Homo sapiens: one gene and its partner. The protein of the gene in region 1 purifies or fractionates together with the protein of each later gene. This does not show direct contact. Each region holds a gene or a part of one and is shown in the gene's direction. Other genes may lie near its edges.

Region 1 (5,413 bases):
GTAGTTGGAGTTAGGTGGAGACACCTTGCTACTTTAACTTTAAACCTTATATCCCTGGGGCAGGGATGACTTGGCAGAGAAACACCTTCAAGTCACTTTTTTTTTTGAGACACTGTCTTGCTCTGTTGCCCTAGGCTGGAGTGCAGTTGCAGGATCTTGGCTCACTGTAACCTCCGCCTCCTGGGTTCAAGTGATTCTTCTGCCTCAGCCTCCTGAGTAGGTGGGACTACAGGCGTGCACCACCATACCCAGCTAATTTTTGTATTTTTAGTAGAAACGAGGTTTCACCATGTTGGCCAGGATGGTCTGGATCTCTTGACCTCATCATCCGCCCGCCTCGGCCTCACAAAGTGCTGGGATTACAGGCGTGAGCCACCACACCCGGCCCAAGTCACTTTTTAACATGCTGTAACCCCCACTTTAAAAAAAAAAAAAACCACTTTTTAATTATGGTGGGGCCGGGCATGGTGGCTTACCGCACTTGAGTGGGTCACTTGAGCCCAGGAGTTCCAAACCAGCTTGGACAACATGGTGAAACCCCTTGTCTACAAAAAATAAAAAAACTTAATCTGGTGTGGTTTCGGGCGCCTGTGGTCTCGGCTACTTGAGACACTGAGGTAGGAGGATCACATTCACCCTGTGAGGTCAAGGCTTCAGTGAGCTGTGATTGCACCACTGCACTCCAGCCTTGGCGATGGCAAGACCCTGTCTCAAAAATAAATAAATAAATAAATATAAAATGAATTATGGTGGGCTTTGAACAATTGTTCTCCCCTTGTTTACACTTTCTGATTTTGAATCAGCACTGAATGCCAGTATGGATAACCTATTGTCCTTTCCATCCAGGAGCATACAATCTTTTGGGGGAGATAAGACAGAAGAAACACATAGACATACAAAGAACAGAATTAGAAAACATGCTGAGCTCAGCGAGAGAGAGAACATTTTGGATTGGGAAAGAAGAGGTGCCTGCACCTAAAACCAATTATGTCTTGAAGAGCGGATAGTGTGCGATAGAAGATGGGGCTACCCTTCAGGAAGGGGACCTGCCGAGAGAAGTGAGAAAGAGAGAATAGGCAGGACTCTTTTTTAGAGCCGGACACTTAGTCACTAAACAATCTTTGTTACATAAAATACTTAAATCAGCTTGCTTGGGACTTTTTCTTTCTTGGCTTCACTAATGCTCTTGGTGAAACATCTTTTTCCTTTTTCTTTTTTAATCAAATCTAATGCTCATGAAATTTTGTAGAAGAAAAAGAAAAACGTTCTCCCTTTCTGAGATAGAGGGTTTGTTTTGTTTTTGTAAACAAGATAACAGGGAAGAGTGCTCTACTGTTTTGGAAAGAGTGACTCATTCAATAAATATTTATTGAGCACCTATTAGGTTCTCGGTACTACGGATACAACAGTGAATTGAACAAAGTTTCTGCTCTACAGAGCTGTGGGGTTCTCGTTGAGCCTGACAGATGATAAACGTGTCAAATGAAGATAAGTTCTCTGAAGAAAAATAAAACCCAGTAAAGGGGACAGCATTAGAGGATGGGCTGCTCTTTTTAGTGCAGCAATTGGGATGTCTGATAAACCTCATGAGAGCAGAGACCTGAATGAAGTGAAGGAGTGAGCCATGCAGATATCCGTGAAAAGACTTCCAGACAGAGGAAGAGTTAGATGGAAAGGATAAACACATATAATCATTTAATGTTATAAAATTATGCCTCAGGTAAATAAATGTAGCATACATTTTATCGTACAAAGGGTCCCAATATACTATGACATTTTGCATATAGATTATAAGTATTATTCTATTATAAATTTATCTTGGGATAATAAGATGTGTAATCAACATTGATCAAATATTTAACAATAATTTTTTTCTCTCTTGGACTCTAGGGTAGGGAAAACTTTTCATCTACCCTCCTAGGTTATATACTGGGGGCTTGCAAATTAAATGTAAAAGACAAATGAGCAACAAAAAGACATTTGTGGGAGTTTACAGAAAAATGTGACAGGAGGCAGTTAGACTTGGGGGCCTATACATCATCTCAGTAGGGGAAGGCGGAAGAGGAGAAGAGCATTTGCTGGAAACCACGACTTTAGGAGAGATAAATCAGCCCTTAAGAGACTAGATAGGAGATGTGGTAGTTTTATGCCAGTGTCTATTTAGTTATGGTAATGAGTCGATCTTCCCTGGTTGTGAAACTCCAGAGTTCCTTTGGGGCACACTGCTTTTAAGACAGATGAAGGAGTTTAGTAAAAAGCCTATTTTTAAATGACTGGCTCAAAATAATTTTTATGTCACAGTGGTGTAGTCTGGACCCCTTTAGACTTTAGAAGAGCTTTCAGCAGATTGATTTGAGTGAGCTACACTTCTAAGAAAGTGAAGCAGGAAAGTTTGAACTGATCCCTTTATTCTCCTCCAAGTTCCCTTGAGGCCCACACAGACATAGCCAGTTATTCTGCTGACTTTGAAGCTGTGCTCACAGTTGGGATCCACCTTTGAAAAATGGCTCCTGAGTGTGTTAAGTAAGTAATGGCTAGCCGAGGGCTTCAGTTGGGAGGACTGCGGAGAAGACTTTTCTCCCCTGGGGTCCTCAAAGGGGAAAGAAATCACAAGGGGGCAGCATAGGGAGTTGTTTGGAAAGGGTGAGAAGGCTGTGCTTAGTGTTGGGATACGCGGATGGATGTAAGCTGGGTTTTGTTTTGTTTAGTTTTTTAAACTTCAGCTGTTGGAAGTCCTCCTTCCCATAGCTTCTCCAAATCACCACTGAGCTGATTCCCCAAGGCATAAAGACAGCCCTGAATTAACACAGTGGGGAATGCTAATTAAGTCATGCCAATAAAGATTTAATCATGAATCAGAAACACTTGGAAAATTATGTTTTCATATTGGAAAGATGTTCTTTTTTTCTCTATGAGTACCCCAAAGTGTTTTTGAAGGATGAAATGCGATAGGTGGTAGGACAGAAATATTTGGTTGACTTGTCCAGTATGCTAATGGTGTTGGAACAGGGACTCCAGTCTTCTGATATTTCATCTGGTTGGTCTTTTCCATAAATAAATATATCCCAGAGCAAGTAGTTCTGGGGATTGTTATAATATGCTGGTTAATAGCATGGAGAAACTGGCTTGGGCAATGTTAAGTAGGAGTTTCAGAGCTTTTAATATATGAGTACTGAGAGTTTGTAAAAGGACCCCAAACAGAAGAATTTTGGGAAATACCAATCTATACCATGCTGGGTTGATAGGACCATCTATATTATACAAGAATCTTCTCAGATTTAAGTTTCTTCTTTTTAAACTGCCATTAAGGGCATGCAGGGAAGGTGAAATTTTGTTTTAATATCCATGTATACCATATGGCTTATTTTGGCAACTAATATATGAATTTGTTCTTGGCTGCTTTGAGTGTGATTGATTCAGCCCAATAAGTATTTTCTAACCAGGTCACCACATGTAGAGTTATGAGGTAAGTGACAAAAGTCCTTCTGACCAAATATTAGTCCTGTATGTTGTACTCCAATGTGCTCACAAGTGAATTGAAATGTTGCTCAAGAGTGAATTGAAATGGCTACTACATTGTGTGAGTCCGGAGGGCTTAATCTGCATGGTGTCATAGCCATTTGGGGGCTAAACCGACAAGTGTGAGGATTGTAAACTGGCAGGGAGCTCAAAATGAGCTGATTGGTGAAACTTCATGGTGATCTCGTAGGTTGCAGCAGAGAACAATACAGGCCCAGTCCTCACATGCTTGGGACTTAAGGTGAAGGTTTGTGTTGGAGGCTAGGTGGGTTACGGACAAGCAGAGAACTGCCACAAGGTGCTGTCAGCACTGGGATGGAGGTGAGCAAAGGAGGCTAGGAAAGCATAAAGGAGGCGTGCCTGGTTCCAGCAGAGGGAGTAGGGAAGTGACAACTAAAACCAGACCTGAAGGTGAAGAGCAGAGAGGAATGTTCCAGGCAGAACCATAGGTGAGAGAATTTGGCATGTTTAAGAGAAAGCTCCCCTCACTGCCCCCCAACTCCGTATTTTTGTTTCATACTCTGCAAGGAGCAACTGCACTAAAAATGTACCTCATGTTTTCTATTTTACAAGTTACTGCCACATGCATGGCCTTATTTCCTGTCTACAACAAACCTTTCAGGTGTCCCAGGTCACAAAGTCAGGAAAAGAGCCTGGGAACTGCCCCCACTCTTCCTAGAATGTAAGGGGTGTTGGGCCATGTTCCAAATACCAGGTTCCCACTGAGAGTGGCTGAGGATAATGCTAATCTGGGCAGTTTTAAGCAGGAAATGAGTATGTGGAGTAGGGAAGTGCGGAGATCTTGCTATGTAAGTCAGAGCTATTTTTCTCACTACTGGGTTGAATTAAAACCAGTTTCTGGAATCACAATGTAAAACAAGAGGCAAAATCCACCTCGAGGCACATTGGTTTTTATTCCTTAAATGTTCCACATAAAAAATGAAAACTGAGTCAGTAGAACAGAATCGTAAGACCAGATGGCTTCCCAGGATCAATGGGGGCAAGCCATTAACTATCATCTAGTTAATAGAGGAAATTGCATTTTACAGTGGGATGGGTTCTAGAGTTCGAGTGGAAGATGAAACTTCAGTCAAAATCATCCTTAAAGTCCCATAGGAAAGTACCACATTGGAGAACAACATGTAACACAACAGGTATGTCTTTAAATAGCAGAAGTGCACTCAAGATACCCATACTTTGAGAAGCACGTGGGGACTAAGACTGAGCAGGGGCCTGTGGTCACTGGGTGAAATGGTGGCAGAATTGCCCATGCTGTTTAAATTTCACTCTTGTCTTCTTTGTCTCCCTGGAAGTTCTATATACAACAGTTACATTTGTGCAAGATAAATACTTGTATGATGTGACTACACTGCACATTCTTGATGCTACTCAGAGTGCACATATGAGAATCATCTCAATCATGATTCATCACCTGCAACTTGGAGCACTTATGCCCTGTGCCTTTCTACCGGGCTTATATTTGAAATCTCAGATTTCCCTGTCAAGGCTTGATCTTACCGCTGCAGATCTGTTTGGACCACTCTGAAAGAGTATACTTTGAGGTGCCTTCCAAAGTGAATTTGATGTACACCACGTAGCCTATAAGGAATTTTTACGATTTTATAGGTTCAATCAGCTGTTGTAACAGACACTCAAAACAACAGTGGATTAAACAAGATGTTTTTCTGTCTTGTGGAATATTGTGGGTCAGCAGGCCAAGACTAGCATGATGGATCCATGATGTTGGGACCCAGCCTCTTTAATCCTGTTGCTCTGCCATCTTGAAGGTGTTGCCCTTGCCCATCTGGTTGCAGATGGCTTCTACTACCACATCCATGTTTCATCTAGTGGGCACAGGGGAGAGATGGGGCAGAGTGTCTTCCCCCTTTAAAAT
Region 2 (3,403 bases), on another chromosome or scaffold:
TTCATTGTTTACCTAATAATTTAATATCACTAGTTTCCTAGTGGGTCAAGCAGATGCAAAATCCAGCTTATTTTCTTCTATGTGCTCTCAAGCTTATTGCTTATTTTAAAGTAAAATCCTGAAAAAGGAAAATATTAGGTTGGTGCAAACGTAATTGCGGTTTTTGCATTGTTGAAATTTGCCGTTTTATATTGGAGTACATTCTTAAATAAATGTGGTTATGTTATACATCATTTTAAGCATATTTCTCACTTTTTTTTTGCTAATGACTTATTGCTGTTTATATTTATTTTAGACTATGGAAATGATGTTAGACAAAAATCAAATTTAGCGATTTTCTGAGTTCAAAATAGGTTATAAAGCAGCAGAGACAACACACAACATCAACAATGCATTTGGCCCAGGAACTGCTAATGAACATACAGTGCCGTGATGGCTCAAGAAGTTTTGCAAAGGAGACTAGAGCCTTGAAGATGAGGAGTGCAGTGGCCAGTCATCGGAAATTGATAATGACCAATTGAGAACATCATCGAAGCTGATCCTCTTACAACTATAAGAGAGCTGCCCAAGAACTCAATGTTGACCATTTTATGGTCGTTCGGCATTTGAAGCAAATTGAAAAGGTGAAAAAGCTCAATAAATGGGTGCCTCATGAGCTGAGTGAAAAATAAAAAAATTCGTTGTTTTGAAGTGTCATTTTCTCTATTCTATGCAACAATAATGAATCATTTCTCTATCGGATTGTGATGTGTGCCAAAAGGTGGATTTTATACGACAACTGGCGATGACCAGCTCAGTGGCTGGACTGAAAGAAGCTCCAAAGCACTTCCCAAAGCCAAACTTGCTCCAAAAAATGGTCATGGTCATTGTTTGGTGGTTTGCTGCCAGTCTGATCCACTACAGCTTTCTGAATCCAGGTGAAACCATTACATCTGATAAGTATGCTCAGCAAATCAATGAGATGCACCAAAAACTGCAATGCCTGCAGCCGGCATTGGCCACCAGAAAGGGCCCAATTCTTTTCACGACAACACTGGGCCGCACGTTGCACAACCAACGCTTCGAAAATTGAACTAATTGGGCTATGAAGTTTTGCCTCATCTGCCATATTCACCTGACCTCTTGCCAACAAACTACCACTTCTTTAGGCATCTCAGCAACGTTTTGCAGGGAAATTGCTTCCACAACTAGCAGGACACAGAAAATGCTTTCCAAGAGTTCGTCAAATTTGGAAGCATGGATTTTTATGCTACAGGAGTAAACAAACTTATTTCTCATTGGCAAAAATGTGTTGATTGTAATGGTTCCTATTTTAATTAATAAAGATTTGTGTGAACCTAGTTATAATGACTTAAAATTCATGGTCCCAAACAGCAATTACTTTTGCACCAAACTAAAAATATAAGTTAAAATGGAAGAGTCTAGGAGCAAACCAAGAAAAGATCACCTACTTCATCATCTCTGGTCAAAAACAAACCAAAAAACTTAACAGCTATCACTTAAGTTTGCTTCCTAGCAATTATTTAGCTTCCAGTCTAGATTACAGGATATATAAAACTTTCTTTCTTTCTTTCTTAACTATGACACTGGCACCAATGAGAGTCCTGTGACTGACTTTCACATTTCCACCATTACTCAATTACTGGTACCATACCACCTCTAATCCCCTAAATCAAACTGCAATTCAACAATAAAGGGCGTACAGAGATGACTTTGTCCTGAAGGAAAATGAATATCCTTGTACCCTCTATATAGCTAACTTCCAAATGTAAGAGAACTATGGGGTAACCTTTTGTTTCTATTCCTATCAAGATGAGCCTTTAAGAGAGGGACTTTTATTAAGCTCTTGACCAAGAAGAATACACTTGATTCAGAGTTTCTGATGCTCTTAATCAGAACTATATGTATTGTCTCAATATTAAATAAAGTCAAATGTTTCCATACAAATGATTTCTCCTTTGACTTCACCAGTCCACACTTGAAAAAAGACTTCCTTCCTGTTTACCTCCCTTGTACTTGTTGACATTCAGACCTGGGTTTGTGTCTCAATATTTGGCAACTTTTGCTGCCATATCATAAGCATGAAACAGCCACCCTCACCTGATGCTTGGCCATCTCCAATCCCTCCAAAATCACTGTCTTAAAGTCCTCCTCCTTGTCCTGTGGAAGGAAAGAGGAGAACTCACAGCCTTTGTTCCAGTGAAAAGTATGCTTGGCCATGAAGACCTTGTTTAAGGTGATTTGGATGGGAAGATGCCTTTCAATCAAAATAGTTTTCTTATTCTGTGGGACAAATTTTGGGCAAAAGACTGTCATATTTATTATTTAGATAAAGGAGGGGGGTCTTATAAAAATTCTCATTACTAATGAAAGGCAGGCATAACAGAAAAGGACATGTGCCTGGGGTCATATTTGCTTCTGGATTTGTCATGATTACTTGCCCAAACTCTGAGATATCAAATTGAAAGTACCAAAGTCCTACCCTGAACTCAGGACCCAGCATACATCCTCATCTCTGTCCTTTTATTAAGCCCCTACAGAAGCAACTAGGAATTTAAGTCAAGTTTTCTCATGTAAATTCCTTCCAGCAAAATCTCTTTAATCACTTTCTTCATTCCATTTTTATAGTTATGGAATTCAGTTTAAGAGCTGCTGCCTGATTAGGAGGACTCCAGAAGACTGGAAAATTTCTGAGCACTCAAAGCACACACTGCATACTAGATCTCACCAGACAACCTAGATCACTCCCAAATTGTACAATTTGATTTTGAAATTTGTTGAATGTAAAAGAAAATTTGACAAAAGGTTAATAACAAAGGCCCAATGGTGAGCATACCAGTTTCATTGCTGGTAGGTTCTTGGGCAAAGATCTGTAATAAATTAGCATGATGCATACTGAAAGATAAAAAGTATATAAGACAATATTTTACAAATTTTATTTTCCTACACTTTTTAATGGTATATGTTTTAAGTAAATTCCCACTTTTCCCCTTAAATAATTTCTCTAAGAAGATGCTTTATATTAAAGAGTCATAAAGCCAGTTTAACTCTGAGCACTGTTTTAAAAACTGCAGGTTGTGGGGGTCTTGCAATCTGTACTCAGCATCATCACTGTGAACTACAAAAAGGAAAATATCTCATGTTAAGGGCAAGAACTGTTTTGTGAAACTTTAGATTCGGTTATATAGCTGTACTGGATCAGGATAAGGAACACATTTCTGAATGTAGGTTATAATCAGAAAGTGAAAAATACTTAGAAAATGAATTTTAGCATATATATTTTATTTCATATAGATAAACAGAATGAATGCTAATGATTATTTCCTTTATTCTGATCGAGGTCTAGCTCATTCAATTTCAATGAAATCTGACTCATATTTTACAAATTTAAAATGTATAATCT

The links. The genes of interacting proteins can lie anywhere in the genome.
Region 2: the proteins of PGM1 (region 1) and PGM3 fractionate together in Homo sapiens (co-fractionation; one large-scale study listed by BioGRID). This does not show direct contact.

The regions. Positions count from the first base shown.
Region 1 is NC_000001.11:63,599,077-63,604,489, forward strand, and holds part of PGM1 (phosphoglucomutase-1), read left to right. Parts: intron 1-5,413. UniProt on the Homo sapiens protein: Catalyzes the reversible isomerization of alpha-D-glucose 1-phosphate to alpha-D-glucose 6-phosphate. The mechanism proceeds via the intermediate compound alpha-D-glucose 1,6-bisphosphate.
Region 2 is NC_000006.12:83,163,417-83,166,819, reverse strand, and holds the end of PGM3 (phosphoacetylglucosamine mutase), read left to right. Parts: 3' UTR 1-353; coding exon of another isoform or gene 354-433; 3' UTR 434-1,947; downstream 1,948-3,403. Other genes in the region: protein DOP1A, read right to left, coding at 2,101-2,160. UniProt on the Homo sapiens protein: Catalyzes the conversion of GlcNAc-6-P into GlcNAc-1-P during the synthesis of uridine diphosphate/UDP-GlcNAc, a sugar nucleotide critical to multiple glycosylation pathways including protein N- and O-glycosylation.